Linked DNA regions of Homo sapiens: region 1 is linked to region 2. Evidence: fine-mapped expression QTL. A gene starts in region 2. The other region holds a variant in brackets. All regions are shown on one strand. Distances are between the middles of the regions.

What was found.
Region 1: its variant is fine-mapped to the expression of PPP5C in aorta (GTEx, PIP above 0.99).

Annotation. Positions count from the first base shown.
Region 1 is chr19:46,292,801-46,301,562 of GRCh38, reverse strand. HIF3A (hypoxia inducible factor 3 subunit alpha) reads right to left here and starts at 4,521. Exons shown (of 15, transcript NM_152795.4): 1 at 4,461-4,521. The coding sequence starts at 4,486. The variant C/G (reference allele first, on the strand shown) is at 3,355.
Region 2 is chr19:46,342,400-46,351,161 of GRCh38, reverse strand. It overlaps PPP5C (protein phosphatase 5 catalytic subunit), which reads right to left and starts at 4,075. Exons shown (of 13, transcript NM_006247.4): 1 at 3,945-4,075. The coding sequence starts at 4,065. HIF3A (hypoxia inducible factor 3 subunit alpha) reads right to left here. Exons shown (of 15, transcript NM_152795.4): 15 at 7,729-8,762. RefSeq lists enhancers at 1-415, 462-701, 1,522-1,581, 3,828-3,957, 4,058-4,237 and a silencer at 1,102-1,161.

The DNA.
Region 1 (8,762 bases), 50 kb after region 2:
TGAGCCACCATGCCCGGCGGAGGGGGGCATTTTAAACTTCCACTTTACAGTGGGGAAACAGCTTCTGAAAGGTGAAGTCCTTGCCCAAGAAGCCCCAAAGCCAACAACTGGCTGAGCTGGGATTTGAATCTGGGCGGTGAGTTTCCAGTCTTCAGGCTTTTTCTCATCCCCTCCTTGGGACCCATCCGAGGGAAGCAGAACCTCTAGGAGGGGACACTGTCCCTTCTTAAATTCAAGAGCAGAGGGTGCTTCTGGGGTGGCATCAACCCCAGCCTCAGGCAAGAGACCTGCGGCCCCACCCCCCAGGGCAAGGGGATATTTTCCTGTCTGGAGACAGAAGGAAAATAAAATCCTCAGTACAGCAGGGAGGGAGGCACAGAAGGGGGCAGTTTGGATGGAGGGTTGGAGCAGGGGAGATACGGCCCCTGTCCCCGTCCCCTCCTTCCTGGCTGGTGGGGGCAGGGGCCTCAGTCCTGCCTGCCTGAGAGGACATTCCGTCCTGTTCTGTTCCAGCCCTGTTTGTCTTCCTGCCCAGAGGGTGGGGGCGAGAGGGCCTCACGGAGCTGGGGGCCCGACAGGGAACAGGGAGTGGGAACTGGCAGGGAGGTGGGGCCAGTGCCCCACCTCCCAGGCAGCTGGGCTCTGTAATCCTCTGTGGCTGGGCTGCTTCTTCCATAGAAGGAGCCAGCTGGTGGCTGCGGAGGGACCCTCCTTCCAGCTCCCAGCCTGCCCTCTGGATGTTCTACTGGGAAGTGTGGGTCTTTCCCATTACACAGACTGGGGGCTAGTTCCTCTGGCTCAGGGTTCCAATCCTGACTCTACTACTTATCAACTCCACTACTTATAAGCTACTACTTACAAGCTCCACTACTTACAAGCTGTGTGACTGCTTATAAGCTGTGTGAACGTAATCTTGCTCTGTTGCCCAGGCTGGAGTGCAGTGGCTTGATCTTGGCTCACTGTCACCTCTGCCTCCCAGTTTCAAGCGATTCTCCTGCCTCAGCTTCCTGAGTAGCTGGGATTACAGGCTCCTGCCACCATGCCTGGGTAATTTTTGTATTTTTAGTAGAGACAGGGTTTCACTATGTTGGCCAGGCTGGTCTCGAACTCCTGACCTCAGGTGATCTGTCTGCCTCGGACTCCCAAAATGTTGGGATTACAGGCATGAGCCACCGCGCCCGGCCAAGGTTAGACTTACTGTTCTCCCTCTGTGCGTATCAGAGATGGAAAGCATGGGCTTAGGAGCTTCTTGGGCTTTACAGTAACCTGTGGATTACTCTACACGCCCCATAGTGTGGTGTGTGCATGCAATTACATACATGGTTTTTACACAAGCATCTTAAAAGGAGGATTAAATAACAGTGATACTGTAATAATGATAGCATTGGTGTGTTGAACACTCACGGAGCTAGAGAACCCATTAAGTCCTTACTACTACCCTATTGAGCAGGAGAAGTGATCTCTCCTTTTAAAGAGGCAGAAACTGAGATTTGGAGCAATGGCATCCCCAGCCCAAGTAACCCAGCGCCCTCCATTGACACTGAACTATGTTCAACCACTTCTCAGTGAATCCGACCATGTTCCTGCAATGACTTTCCCCATTTTCCGGATGAGGAAGCAGGCCCAAAGAGGTGATGAAACTGAAGCCACACAGCTTTTAGTAGCAGAGACAGGATTCAAGCCAGGTCTGTCTACTCTGACTTGAGCTCAGTTTGTGGCACACCTGTTGGGTGTCCCGCCCCCCACCGTCTGCTTCCTCACTACTGGCTCCTCATCTTGATCTGGGGTGGTGGAAAGGGAGTGTGATACCCAGTTTTCTTTTTTTTTTCTATTTTTCTATTTTTTTTTTTTTTGCGACAAGGTCCGGCTGTGTTGTCCAGGCTGGAGTGCAGTGGCCTGATCTTGGCTCATTACAACCTCTGCCTCAGGCTCAAGCCATCCTCCCACCTCAGCCTCCTGAGTAGCTGGGACTACAGACACTCACCACCATGCCTGGCTAATTTGCTTACTTCTAGTATAGATGAGATTTTGCCATGTTGCCCAGGCTGGTCTTGAACTCAAGCAATCCGCCCACCTCAGCCTCCCAAAGTGCTGGAATAACAGGCCTGAGCCACCGCACCCGGCCTGCCCGTATTTCCAGGATCTGAAAGTGAGGCTCAGAGCGGCAGTCACTGACACAATTCCACACCACCAGGAAGTGGGTGAGATGGGATTTGAACCCTGTCTTTGGGCCCTGTGCTCTTGGCAGGTGTGGCCCCCACCCAAGAGGCCCCTGCCCCACCCCTCTTTTGCCTAGCAGCCTCGGTCCCTTCCCCCGTCACACCCCTGCTGCCTCCAGATCGCCCCAGCTGGCCCCATGCCCAGCCCTGGTCCAGCCCCCTGGCACTCTGCCCAGCTTGGGACGTGCAGCTGGAACCCTGCCACCCTTCCTCCGTGTTCCAGCCAAGAACAGGGGGTGGGGCCAGGGCCTGGCGGGCTCAGGGTGAGGCCTGAGAATGGGGGTTGGGGCCCAGTGCCCCCCTCCAACCAGGAAGGAGAGAAGTTCACCTCTTCCCTGCCCTGAAGAATTTGCCACCCATGAGGAAGGCATAATAAAAGCAGGCAGTCCCTGCCCACATTCAGGGCTACTTCTGGGCTTTTCTATTCTGACACCCAGCTGGGTATTGGGGGGGGGCGTCTTACGAAAAGCACAGAGGATTTGGTGGGTGGGGGTTTAGGTTGTAGCTGGGCAAGGATGCCTTTTGGCATTGCAGAGAGGTGTCCTGAGAGACCAGAGGCAGGGTTTGGGTTTGCAAAGGGACTTGGCATGGGGGTCTGGGGGAGTCTCTCTGCCCCCCGACTCTGCCTGTTCTCAAGGACATGGTAATCTGGTAGGGTGCTGGTCCCCAAAATCCTATCTTCTCCGGGAATACTACCTCACTGGGCACTCTGGGCTGCAAGCCGTACCCACCAGGGACTTCCCAAGAGCATCCTTGGCCACAGTGGGATGGCAGCCAGCCCCAGCTAGAGGAAGGGAAGGGGGAAAGGAGGTGTTGGGGGCCCACTCACCATCGCCCAGGCCCCCGTTGGCTGAAGGGCCATCCAGGGGGTGCAGGAGGGGATGCGGTGCAGCCAGGACCCGGGTGCGAGTTACGAGTGGGTGCGCACGGCGGTGAGATGACTCCACAGGAAAGGGCCGGCCTTGGGTGGGGAGGGGGGGCACCCGAGCTCAGCCAAGAGGGGCCCCCACCCAGCCAGGAGGGGGCGCTGAGAGGGGCGGAACGACAGCTGGCCCAAAAGGGGTGGGATAGAGTTCCTTGTTAGGCCCAGAGCCAGGGCCTGGAATAGAGTAGGGGACAGGGGAGAGGATGGGGG[C/G]GGTTAGAAACATGGGGTGTGCATGGATCCAATCAGGCCTGAGAAGCCAGGGAGGAGGGAAGGGGGTGAGGCTTACTGGGTGCCTCACATTGGACAGGGAAAGCTGAGGACCTAGAACATTTTCCAGGGTCCCATGGGAACATGGCCAGATAAAACCCCCCGGCAGCGGCCCCAGGGCACAGGTTCCCCTGTGTTCCAGCAGAGCTGCACCTGCTGGGCAAGTGAACCCAGAAACCCACCCTCTGCCCGGGATGACCCCATCTGAGTACTGCGGCAGGGGGCGTTCCCATCACAGCCTGCAGGCTCACAGCACCCTGCCATGGAGTCTCCCCAAAATAAAGCTTGGATGAGGCTCCCCTGTCTCTCAGGATGGGGGTGCAGGGGTGAGATGAGGGGCTGGACTTTGGGAAGTGGGTCCAGCTTGTTTCCCTGTTATTTAAGGGGGTGACTCTGGCTTTTGAAAGGATACAAAAAGTCTCTTGGGAAGGGTCCCAGACGGCTTCTGAAAGGGGCTCCCCTCTGCCCATTTCTAGGGAAACCCAATGTTTAGGAGACTGTGTCAGGAAGCATACTATTAGAGGAGATCTCTCCTCTCTTGAACTCAGGAGCTGAATGCCATTCCAAGGGACTCCCTATATGTGGGAAGGCTCCATTTAGGGGTATCCCATATCACCTAGGATCCCAGGCACCTGGTGGCAAAGAATACCCTCAATTTTGGGGGGTTCAGAGGCCAGAGGGATCAATATGTGGAGGGCGAATATCTCCCGCAGAAGCCTGGGGACTGCTCAAATGCAATCACCCCTAATTTATCAGGAATCCCAAGTTCCACCCCCAACCAGGAGGGTAAATGAGCCTTGGGTAGCGAGAAATCGGGAACCCCGAAGCCGCTCTTGGCCAGAGGGGCGGGGCAGCCAGAGACGTAGGGAATCCCCCACCCCTGCAGTCCCTAAGGGTGGAGAGTGCGGTGGGGATGTGCCTCCAACTGCGCGCCCCGGGGCGTTCTTGGCTCGCACCCGCGAACCCCACCCCCCCCAACAATCCAGCTCAGGGGTCTCCAGGAGGAGAGCCCCCCAATTCCCAGAACTCCTGCCCCCGAACTTCAGTACCTTGCGCGCTGCAGCCCCAGCGCCATGGCTCGCCAGTCGCCGCTCCGGAGCCCTCGGAGGCCCCTAGCCCCCTCCCCGGCCTTGCGAGCCCCCTCCCCAGCTCCTCCCCACGCCGCGCGGTTGGCTGTGCCACGCCAGGCCTGAGGCTCTGATTGGGCAACGGTATGTCACTCCTGAAAAGGAGGCGGAACCAGAGGGAAAGACTTGGAAAGGCAAGGGGGGGATACCGTGTAATACACACCCCCCAACCACGCCCCTCGCCGCGGACTTCCTCGGCAGTGTATCCCGCACCGTCGGCTGAACGCGCCTTCTCTAGTCCAGCCTCTGAAGTGCCAACGCCAGTACTCTTCTGAACCCACTCAGTTCACTCTGCTCTCTGGACCCCAGTCCCCAGCCTCTAACCCCCACCTCTTCTCACCTTTCCATTTCCTAACCCCAGTTGAGCCCCTCTGACCTCCAATCCCACCCCTTCCAAACCCCTAGCCCTGCCTTCTCTATCCCTTCTAAGGTATTCACAGAGTACCCCACATCTCCTCCCCACCCCCCAACTCCCAACCCCACCCCAGTTCCACAATCCTTGGCCCTCTGGCACCTACCCTTCTCTCTCTCTCCCCAGCCCCTCCCTGCCACCCCAGTCCCATACCCCACTTCGCCCCCATTCCTCCAGTCTGCACCCTCTGCACCCCAGCTTACCTTCCCTACCCCCTCTACTCCACCCTAACCTCTTGGCCTCTCTGACTCCCTTTTCAGGTTCCCATTGATGAATAATTAAGCTTATGTCAAGTAAATATGTTTTAACTCAATCACACCTACTTCAAAAAAGAGCCGAGAAATGTATTTTTTTTTAACTAGTCGACTATGAAGGGAGAAGTACAAAGGTACCAAGCAAGGGTGAAAGCATTACAGTTGGATAAGGAACAGAGTGTGTGTGTGTGTGTGTGTGTGTGTGTGTGTTGGACCACTATTCTGGATTTGGTTGGCAGGGAAGAGGATACTACAGCAGAAGTGGCCTTGTTGAACCTTGAACTTGCCAGGCAAGTTGCTCACCTTAGGGCCTTTGCACTTGCTGTTCCCACAGCTTAGCACACTCTTCCTCCAGGAATCCACACGGCTCCCCGGCTCACGCCAGTTCCCCACTCTGTTTTCTTTTGGGAAACCACTTCTCTGTCCTCTTCATCTATTTAATTTGAATAGGGCTTGGCCACTGCTCTGCCTTCACCAGCTCCAGGGATGGACATAGGATCCAAACCTGGCTAATCAGTTGAGTCTGCTTCCCTGGCCACAGTGATTGGTTCAGGGAAGGCATGTTACCTAATTTAGCCCAATGAGAATCAACCCTGAGACATTTGCTGAAACCATTAGGAAAGAGGATTTTCTATGTCTGCTGGAATTGCTGGGCAGATGGAGCAGATGGGGCTCACACTGCCACAAAGAGAGGAGAGGCTTTATGAGATGAGGTTCAGTGCAAAAGAGATTGTGCAGAAATGAACGATTGTGAAAGGCAGTTTTGACACCAGCACTTGAGTGCCTGGATCCAGCCATACCTGAACTCCAGTTTAATTCTTGGATTTTTCAAATGAAACCCACAATGGGCTTTTTTTTTTTTTTTTTTTTTTTTTTGCTGTTGCTTTTGTCAAATATTGCTTCATTCACTATTGCCTTATTTGCTTTGTGCTTAGATTCGTTTGAATGGATTTTAGATACTTGCACCCAAAAGAATCTTGATAGAGAAATCAGCTTTCAACCCTCAGTGTAGAGGCAGGTGGGATGTTAGAAAAGGAGCAGTCTGAATTATAAAGGGGGGCCGGCCATGGTGGCTCACGACTGTAATCCCAGCACTTTGGGAGGCTGAGGCGGGCAGATCACCTGAGGTCAGGAGTTCAAGACCAGCCTGGCCAACATGGTGAAACCCCATCTCTACTAAAAATACAAAAATTAGCCGGGTGTGGTGGCACACCCTTGTAATCCCAGCTACTCGGGAGGCTGAGGCAGGAGAATCGCTTGAACCCAGGAGGCAGAGGTTGCAGTGAGCCAAGATCATGCCATTGCACTCCAGCCTGAGTGACAGAGTAAGACTCTGTCTCTAAATAAATAAATAAATAAATAAATAGTAGAAGGGGCTGCAGAGGAAGCATTGTTCTTAGAGCTTCTTAGGGTTTAGGTAAGGACATGGGGTAGAAGAGATGTTCAAGGGAGAAACTGAGGAAGGGGAGTGGTTGTTAACAAGACAACGAGAGTTCCAGTGGGTGTGTTGGAAGAGTTTGGAGGGGGCAGTAGTTGGATGATAGATTCAGTGGAAGAACTCATTGATTTTGGTATGAGGGAGTCACAGCAGAGAGCCAATCGGAGGGATTTACAGTGCCCAAGAAAAGCTGGCACTATTTCAACAAACATTAAAATAGAACTAACACTTTACACACAGAGATGCAACAGGTGTCTCTCTACGATGTAGGTTAGCGTTAAACTTCGCTCAGAGGTTCCCAGCAGCTAAGGCAATAAGGGAAATGTGTCCGTTAAAATGATTTCCAACTTTTGCTAAAGGATATGTTCTTGTTTGAAGAGACAAGTTTTGTACCTGGAACTGAAGTTAAGTGGGAATTTAAGACCTTTTAATATTAAATTGTAGAGTGGTCTGAACTGCCAGGAACTGTGGGAGCTTGGTGGAAGCACCTTACCCACCCTGTCGGGGCTGTCAGAAAGGTTTATTGTGGAAGGGGCATTTGGATGCAGACTTAAGAAGGAATAACAGTGAGGCAAGCAGAGAGAGGGTTGGGGACAGCCGAGTGCAGTGGCTCTCAACTGTAATCTCAATGACTCAGGAGGCTGAAGGGGGAGGATCGTTTGAGGCCAGGAGTTTGAGACCAGCCTGGGCAACATAGCAAGATCCCATCTCTTAATTTTTATTTTATTTATGTATGTATTTATTTATTTTTTGAGACTGAGTGTTGCTCTTGTCGCCTAGGCTGGAGTTCATTGGTGCGATTTGGCTCACTGCAACCTCTGCCTCCCAGGTTCAAGCAATTCTCCTGCCTTGGCCTCCTTAGTAGCTGGGATTACAGGCATCTGACATCACGCCTGGCTAATTTTTGTATTTTTAGTAGAGATGGGGTTTCACCATGTTGGCCAAAATGGTCTCAAAATCCAGACCTCAGGTGATCCGCCCATCTCAACCTCCCAAAGAGCTGGGATTAGAGGCATGAGCCACTGCACCCGGCCTCTATCTCTTTTTTTTTTTTTTTTTTTTTTTTTTTGAGACGGAGTCTCGCTCTGTCGCCCAGGCTGGACTGCGGACTGCAGTGGCGAAATCTCGGCTCACTGCAAGCTCCGCTTCCCGGGTTCACGCCATTCTCCTGCCTCAGCCTCCCGAGTAGCTGGGACTACAGGCGCCCGCTACCGCGCCCGGCTAATTTTTTGTATTTTTAGTAGAGACGGGGTTTCACCTTGTTAGCCAGGATGGTCTCGATCTCCTGACCTCATGATCCACCTGCCTCGGCCTCCCAAAGTGCTGGGATTACAGGCGTGAGCCACCGCGCCCGGCCCGGCCTCTATCTCTTAATTTTTTTTTTTAACTTTGCCAGGCATGGTGATGTGCACCTATAGTCCCAGTTACTTGGGAGGCTGAGACGGGAGGATTGCTTGAGCCCAGGAGCTGGAGGCTGCAATGAGCTATGATTGTGCCACTGCACTCCAGTCTGGGCAACAGAGTGAGACCTCATCTGTAAAATAAATAAATACATGAATGAGAGGGCTGGGGGAAAAGTATTGTAGGCAAAGGGAAGATAATACAACAGTTTGGAGGCAAAAGAGAGCTTGGCACATTGAGGGAACTGACAGGTAGACAGTGGTTGCAGCCTGGATTATAAAGAGAGGAGATGGGAAGTGATGGTGGAGGGGTGCATCGGGGTGAGATCAAACCAAGTCTGAAAGCCATTAAAGAATCTCGGGCATTCCCCAGGGAGCACTGGGGAGCCATGGCCGAGTTTTGAGCAGGACAGAACACAACATGTGCCTGATAAGGATTCCTCTGGGAGCTGGGTGTGGTAGTTCACACTTGTAATCCCAGGTTTGGGAGGCCAAGGCAGGAGGATTGCTTGAGGCCAGGAGTTTGAGACAAGCCTGAGCAACATAGTGAGAGCCCATCTCTTTAAAAAATTTAAAAATTAGCTGGGCATGGTGGCATGCACCTGTAGTCTCAGCTACTCAGGAGGCTCAGGGAAGAGGATTGATTGAATCCAGGAAGTTGAGGCTGCAGTGAGCTATGATCCTGCCATTTACTCCAGCCTGGGTGACAGAGACCCTGTA
Region 2 (8,762 bases):
GCTCTCAACCATGGCCTGCTTCCTCCCCACAAGCTCTTATACCTGGAGCCTCCTTAGGGGTTAAGCATAAGCCCCCACCCCCCATTTTACAGAAGCGGGGCACTGAGGCCCACAGAGAGGGGAAGACAGTTGAGACACTTCCCTTAGACTCAGACATGAGACGGGGGACGAGGCTCTGCCCCCAGGATTTCTGGAATAGGCCTGAACTTACAGAGCAACCAGCCACAGTTGAGGGGACAGTCCTCTGAGCCCTGGGACCTCTCTTCTCCCTGCTGGGGCCCCTCTTCTCCTCAACAGGGCCAGTACAGCTCTGGGAGGAACCTGAACGTGGGAGCCAAGCACGTGGCGAGGAAGGGGATATCCGGGCCCTGCTGCTCACACACTCTGACCTTGGGCGAGTGGTTTTTTCACTTCTCCGAGCCTTGCTTCCTTTATAAAACAAACAGGGCCACTCCTAGCCATCTCCCAGCCCCCGGGGAGGATTAAACCCCACAGCGTACCTGGCCACAAGGCTCAATTAAGGTGAGCTGTCATTATTCTTTTTTATTGTTATTCCCACAGCCCTGGAGCCTGGGGCTCTGTGCCTGCTACTGCCTGACAGACAGCAAGGGGCCTGGGCCAGCAGGGCCGTTCTCCTCCGTGCCAGCTCAGTGCCAGGCCCCTCTGGCTGCCTGCCCAGCCCCAGGACTCCTGAGAGCCTGGATCCCAGGTCCTGGGGGGCAACAGGCTCCTCCCAATGGCTGCTGTGGCCCAGAATTCTGATGCGGCCTCAGCAGCAACCCCCATGCAGGCTGCTCCCATCCCAGGGAATTCCACCTTCCACCCCATCACCTGGCTGAGACAGCCTCATCCTGGACTCCTCTCCATCCCTCAGCCCCCAAAGCCCGGTAGTCACTTCACTTATTCTGCCAAGTCAGCCTCCTGAACATCTCTCAGATTCAGCCACTCCCTTCTCACCCTCCAGCCCCACCCAGCCCTGGTCTGGCCTCTCCTGCCCAGGTTCCTGGCTCAGCCTCCACCTGGCCTCGCAGCCTCTTGTCCTGCCCCTCCAGAGGGGTGTTCCTAAAACACAAACCTGACCCTGTCCTTTCCCTACTCAGAACCTCCCAGGGCTCCCCAGAGCCCCACCCCCCACCGCCACCCCACCCCAGAAAGCCCTGGCTCCTTCCTACAGCCCTGCGCAATCTACTCCCTGCAAACTCATCATAACCTCCTCCAGCCTCCTACGCTGTGGCCCCACTTATGGCCTCCATGCCTGGCTCTGCTCACCTTTGGGCCTTTGCCACCTGTTTTTGTTTTTTTTTTCCCTGCCTGGAGTACCGTCCACCCTCTCTCCAGGCAGCCACTCTCACTTCCTCCCTGAAACACTTCTTGAATCTATTTCTGTCCCTCCAGCCTGGCTGGCGATCACCACCCCTCCTCACCTGTCCACTAATCTAGACTCCTTCCTGTCTTACCCTGGAGTCCAGTCTCTGCATGGCAGCCAGGGATCTTTTCTGAACACTAACTGAACCACAGCACCCCGCTCTTGAAACTTCCCATGGCATCGACCACCCCCAGGATGACACCCATATTCCCCAATCTGACTTCCAAGGTTCTACCTCTGGCCTCATCTCTCACTGGTCCTACCTCCCTCTCACGGCTCCCACCGGATCGAGCTTCTCCACACTTTGCTTCTGCTCCCGTTGGAGGCCAAGTCTCTTCCAGGGCTCCAGACCCTTCCCACCTCCGCCTTCTCCAGGGTTTTGCTGCTGCAAGTCCCCCCTCTCCTGTGCAGAATCAATTCTCCATCTCTATTGGACTCTACTCTCTTCCATCCTTACAAAAAATCCATCTTTCCCTGACACTGCATCTTCTCTCTTTTTTTTTTTCTTGAGACGGAGTCTGTTGCCCAGGCTGGAATGCAGTGGTGTGATCTTGGCTCACTGCAGCCTCTGCCTCCAAGGATCAAGCAATTCTCCTGCCTCAGCCTCCCAAGTAGCTGGGACTACAGGTGTGTGCCACCACACCCAACTAATTTTTTCAGCAGAGACGTCGTTTCACCATGTTGGCCAGGTTGGTCTCGAACTCCTGTGCACGTTCTCGTCTTACCACCCTCCCCCATTTCTCCACTCCCCTTCAGAACCAATACTCCTAACACTTAACATTTGCTGTCTCCACTTCCTCCCCTCCCATTCACTCTTCAGCACCTCCTGGCTGCATCACCCCCATCACTCCCCAATAACTGCTCCTGTCAACATCACTACCAGCATCCATGGAGCCAAAGCCAATGGCCAGTGCTTGCCTTGGCAGCATCGGACTAAAGGCACCAGCTCCTTGTTCTAGAAGCGCTCCCTTCTCTCAGCCTTCCCGACACCTTTCCTGGCTTCCTTTCCACCTCACTAAGTGCTCCTCCTTAGCCTCACCCTCTTCCATTTGGGTTCTGTCCTAAGTCCCCCCTCTAGACCCTCTTACTAGATGATCTCATCCATTCCCAACCATAGTTTGATCACACCCAAATTCTTCTCCAGTCCAGACTGGCCCATTTACTTAATGTGTCTTCTTGTAGGGCTGGGCGTGGTGGCTCATGCCTGTAATCCCAGCACTTTGAGAGGCCGAGATGGGCGGATCACCTGCGGTCAGAGGTTCGACACCAGCCTGGCCAACATGGCGAAACCCCATCTCTACTAAAAGTACAAAAATTATCTGGGCATGGTGGTGTGCGTCTATAATCCCAGCTACTCGGGAGGCTGAGGCAGGAGAATCGCTTGAACCAGGGAGGCGGAGGTTGCAGTGAGCCGAGATTGCGCCATTGCACTCTAGCCTGGGCAAAAAGAGCAAAACTCCCGTCTCAAAAAAAAAAAAAAAAAAAAAATTCCAAACTGGTCTTTGTAATGACTCACGGAGACCCTGCATGATCTGGCCTCTGTCCTAATCTCATCTTGTTATTGGTCTCCCCCTAAGTAGCCAAAGCCCCAGCCATGCCAGTACCCTTTCATTCCCCATCCCAGGGCCTTTGCACAGGCTGCTTTACCTCCCTGGAACACTCCTCTCCAGTTCTCCCTCTGTGAGTTTCAGCTTAAACGCCTCCTGCTCAGTAAGGCCTTCCCCCACTACCCTATCTAAAGTAGCCTCCAACCCTTATTCTCTACTTCATCACACTGCTGGTTTGCTTTCAAAGCACTCATCACAATTTAAGTATTTTACTTATTTACATGGTTTTTTTTTGTTTTTTTTTTTTTCATGTCTGGTTCACCTGCAAAATTACAAGCTAAGGACAGGGCCACATCTGTCTCATTCACTGCTATATCCCCAAAGTCAAGCACAGTCCTTGGCACATAACAGGTACTCAATAAATATTTGTTGAATTAATGAATGAATGGGTGCCCCACACTTGACTCTCAATATTCTAAGTGATACTATTCTTAAGGATCCCCACCCTTACTCCCAAGGCCCCCACCATCACATTCCTTTTCCTCGGGTCAGCCCAAATCTCCTACTTCCTTGTTCCCCCCATCTAATGATCCATTCCCCACCCCCACGATTGCCTTCTCTATTGGGGCTGTGCCCCCTCTACCCCCCACTTGGCGGCACCCACCCCAGGACTCCCCATTTGGTAGCGCCATCAATCACTCCCCCACCACATGTCACTGCCTGGTAGCGCCCTCTACAGGCCTCACGTTTGGTAGCGCCCTCATTCCAGTCCCCCTCTCGCCCCACAATTGGTGGCGCCCTCCTCAGTCTCTCCACTGAGTAGCACCCGCTCCGCACGCCACTCCTAGGTATCACTCTCCGAAGCCCCCTATGTCGCTCCTTGGCAGCGCCATCCTGGGCCTCCCCACGCCCGGTCACTTGGTAGTGTCTGCCCCGCGCCCAGGCTGCAGCTCCGCGTTGCTATGGTTCCGCGCGGGCCCGGCACCCCTCAGCCTGGGCCACTGTCCACCCTCCCTGCCAGGCGGGCGCACCTTTGAAGTAGTCATTGGCCTGAGTCTTGAGCTCCTCTGCCCGCTTCAGAGCTCCATCAGCCGGGGGTTCGTCCCGGGGGGGCTCAGCACACTCAGTCCTCTCGCCCTCCGCCATCGCCATGCCGCAAAGCGACCCCTACCCTGGCAACGGCCGCCAGCGGCACCCGGCCGAACCGTCGCGAAGGAGCGCCGGGTGGCCGCCGCCGCTGCCGCACAAGTGTCGTAAAGCGCGGGCCCTGAAGGCGCCCTTCACGCGCCTGCGCAGGTCCCTTTCGCCACAGAGCGCGCGGAGGACAAGGTGACCAGAGGTTCCCCAGACGGTACCCCTGGTAGAGAGAGCCAATAGGGAATGAGAGAAGGGGCGCGCGGGGAAACAGACCTGGTGTGGCCTCTCCTCCCAAAGTTACCGTGTTCCAAGGCTGTAAAAAGTTTCTCGGTTCTGAAAGTGGGATTTCCCCGCTGTCCTCTAGGGTTGGGGGGTGGGTTGTGAATGTCGCTGGCGGGTGTGGCTGTTTTGCAAGGCAGCGCCATGCCCTACGCGGAGCCGGACCCGGGCGTCGAGCCCTATTGTCGACTACCTGTGTGACCTTGAACAAATCTTCCCTTCCTCTCTAGGGTCTCAGTTACCCATCTCTGAAAAATTAGTGGTTTCTCAAGCCAAAAAGGGTCCAACCTTGAGGGTCAGTGTTTGAGTTTTTAACTGAAGGCACTCTGGATTTCAAGTCCTGAGCAAGGCTTAGAAGTGTGTTGCACCATCTCCTTTCTTCCTGTGTTCAGCTTCCCAAATCCTGAATCTTCAAATAAACTCTCCTGTTTGTGTTTTTACAGATTCTCTTGTCTGAGATCACAGCATTGATTGCATGCACTCTGCCTCCCTCCAGTTTACCCTTCACATTTTTTTTTTTTTTTTTTTTTTTTTGAGAGGGAGTCTCCCTCTGTCGCCCAGGCTGGAGTGCAGTGGCGCCATCTAGGCTCACTGCAACCTCCGCCTCCCGGTTTAAGCGATTCTTCTGCCTCAGCCTCCCAAGTAGCTGGGATTACAGGCGCCCGCCACCATGCCCGGCTAATTTTTGTATTTTAGTAGAAACGGGTTTCACCACGTTGGCCAGGCTGGCCTCGAACTGCCGACCTCAAGCTATCCGCCCGCCTCGGCCTCCCAAAGTGCTGGGATTACAGGCGTGAGCCACCGTGCCCGGCCGAGGGATCTTTCTAAGACATGATAAAACCATGGCACACTCTCGCTCCCAGGCTTCCATGGCCCCAGCACCCTTAGGAGAAAACCCAAACTCCTGATTAGGAGACCCTGAATAGTCTTAACCTCAGGCTGAATAGTCTAATATCCAGATTCCACCCCTTTGCCAATCCCCACCCGCCGTACACGCTTCCAGTCTGTCCTTTCTAAGCCCTCATGTAGCACTAAGTCCTGTAAGGCTCTGGATCCCCTCCTGGAAGCACACTCCTAAACCTATCTATCCCACTCCCAAACCTCTTGTTAGTCCAACCCCATCTCTCCTACTGGCCCCCAGCACAACCAACAATCACCCTAAAGGGCAGATATTAGTATCATCTCCATTTTACAGATAAAGACACAGACTTGCAGAGGTGTTTGACGAAGGTCACAACAACATAAGAAGGTGACAGAGCCAGGATCAGGAATCCCATCTAATTCCTATGTCCTTCATTGCCACTCTACTGCCTCTGTAGGTGCCAGAGCCCATCTTGGTGGGTTAGTAAATTTTTCTTTTGTTTGTTCGTATTGTTTGTTTTGGGGTTGGGGGAAAAGGAGCTGCCATAGTGGATTTGAATTCTGGTTTCGAGTCCAGCGGAATCCTTCCTGACACTGTGACCTTGGGCAAGTGATCACCCTCTTCTAAGCCTCAGTTTCAACCTCTGTAAAGTGGGGATAATAATTATCCCCATCATACAGGATTAGAGGAGAGTTCGACAACATGAGTACAGCATTTGTCAGGGAGCCTGACACAGAGTAGTACTTTTATATTCACTCCATCACAAATACTCAAAGTGGGCTGGGTATGGTAGCTCATGCCTGTAATCGAAGCACTTTGGGAGGCCAAAGCAGGCAGATCACTTGAGGTCAGAAGTTCAAGACCAGCCTGGCCAACATGGCAAAACCCCGTCACTACCAGAAATACAAAAATTTAGCTGGGCATGATGGTGCGCACCTATAGTCCCAGTTATTAGGGAGGTTGAGGCAGGAGAATTGCTTGAACCTAGGAGGCGGAGGCTGCAGTGAGCCGAGATCGCGCCACTGCACGACAGCCTGGGCTACAGAGTGAGACTCTGTCTCAAAAAACAAATAAAACAAAACAAATATTCAGAGTTGGGCAGAGTGCCTAGTGCTGTGATGGGAGGGGGCTTCCAAGGGGAGCTTTTAGGGGCACTTTACCCAATTGGAGCAGGCAGGGAAGGCTTCCTGGAGTAGCTGTTACCTAAACCAAGATGTGAAATATGAGTAGGAGGTAACCAAGTGAGGGGAGAGGGGAAGGGAGAGAGGCATTTCAGGCAGAAGAATAGGAAGTGCAAAGGCTTGAGAGTGTTTTTCTTCCCTTGAAGAGATTCCTATGTGCAACCCTGTATGGGGGGTTATGAGAGTGACGTACATGACAACAGACACACCCACCTGCACATGAGTCCATGGACACACACTCTTGCACACACATGCTCACTTAACTATGGGCAATCATGTCACACACACATTGGTACCCAGAATTATAGCATCAAGCAGTCCCACACATGTACACAGAATCACATCATACAGACATACATAGGCAAAAAAAAAAAAAAAAAATCACAGCACCTTCCACACTCAGAAACACAGAAACCCAAAATAACCAGAAACACACATAAGGCAGAATCACTTCACCCAGATACTAATATGCACTTGTAGAAGGAATCACAACCCCACCCACCTGCTGCAACACAGGTTCACAGAATGTGACAAAGACCCATACACATACACAGAATGACACTGTGCACACACTCGTGTGCATGCACACACACACACACATACAGATACACAGAATCAGAAAGTAACATGGGGCTGGTGCAGTGGCTCAAGCCTATAATCCTAGAACTTTGGGAGGCTGAGGCAGGAGGATCGCTTAAACCCAGGAGTTTGAGACCAGCCTGGGCAACATGGTAAGGCTCTGTCTCTACAAAAAAATGAAAATAATTAGCTGGGCCTCGTGTCATGCACCTGTAGTCCCAGCTACCGGGAAGGGTGAGATGGGAGGATTGCTTGAGCCCAGGAGGCTGCAGTGAGCCGTGATCACACCACTGCACTCCAGCTTGGGTGAGATAGTGAGACCCTGTCTCGAAAGAAAGAAAGGGCCTGGCATGGTGGCTCATGCCTGCAATCCCAGCACTTTGGGAGGCCGAGGCGGGCAGATTACCTGAGTTCAGGAGTTCGAGACCAGCCTGACCAATGTGGTGAAACCCCATCTCTATTAAAAACACAAAAATTAGCTGGGTGTGGTGGCACATGCCTGAAATCCCAGCTACTTGGGAGACGGAGGCAGGAGAATCGCTTGAACCTGGGTAGTGGAGGTTGCAGTGAGCAGAGATTGTGCCACTGCACTCCAGCCTGGGCAACAGAGTGAGACTCCAAGAAAAAAAAAAAAAGAAAAGAAAGAGAGAGAGCGGAAGGAAGGAAGGAAGGAAGGAAGGAAGGAAGGAAGGAAGGAAGGAAAAAAAAAAAGACACTCAGCCACCAGTGCACCCACACTCCCAGAGGAGATCCAAAAGATGAGTCAACACGCAGAGCTCTGGTGCCTACCAAGGTGAGGTCTTTATGGTGTATAGAGATTGGTGAGTTTCAGAGCCAGTGTGGCCAGTCTAGTCCCTCCCCTTTCCCTAGCCCAGCACAATTCCCTCCATTGAGGGCCCACATCACCTCCAGAGGGAGGAGGGAGGGGTCAGACCCCCCCATAGCACCAATCTGGATAGGCCACTCTCTGACAAAACAGAGCGAGCAGTGCCTTCCACAAACGGGGTAAATGGGGCTAAGAAGGGGGGAGGCCTTTTCCTGTGGGAGACCAAGAGTAGCACCATCTGTAGAAAGAAAGCTGGGGGGTAAGGGAGGCACATAGATGGTGGCAGACAGCTGAGGGGTCCTGGCTTCTCTCCCCACCTGGCAATATGCAGACAGCACCGTGCCTGTGCATGTGCCTGTGTGGCTGGAGAAGTCTTCAGATTGCAAACCACCCAAGGGGTGAGGGAGCCCCAGGTGCCCCAAACATGTGGGGTAAAGTCAAGGTAAGTGCATGTCTGGAGGGCTGGGGTGGGAAGTGGAGGGGGTTCTGGGGCACAGAGATTGTAGGCAATGAGAATGGAGAGGCATGAAGTCCAGGAGCAGCACAGCCTAGAGGGTAGGGGTTTAGAATGGGAAAACTTAAGACTGAAAGAAGGAATTGGGTAAGTTCAGTGGGGTGGGAAGCCCAGAATAGATTTAGGAGGCTGGGGTCTGGAATTAGGGAGTTGAGGTTATAAGATTCAGAACCAGAGGAATCTTTAGGGAAAAGTCTAGATTCCAGAATCAGAAGCATTTGGAGGCTGAATTATAGAATCAGAGGAATTTGGATCTGAAATCAAAGGCAGTTGGAAGCTGTGAGGCTTAGAAGCAGAGGAATTTATAGAATAAAGCATAGAATTAGAAAAAGCCTGGCTGGGCTCAGTGGCTCATGCCTGTAGTCCCAGCACTTTGGTGAGGCCAAGGAGGGAGAATTGCTTGAGCTCAGTAGTTCGCGACCAGCCTGGGCAACATGGTGAAACCCCGTCTCTATTTTTTTTTTTTTAACA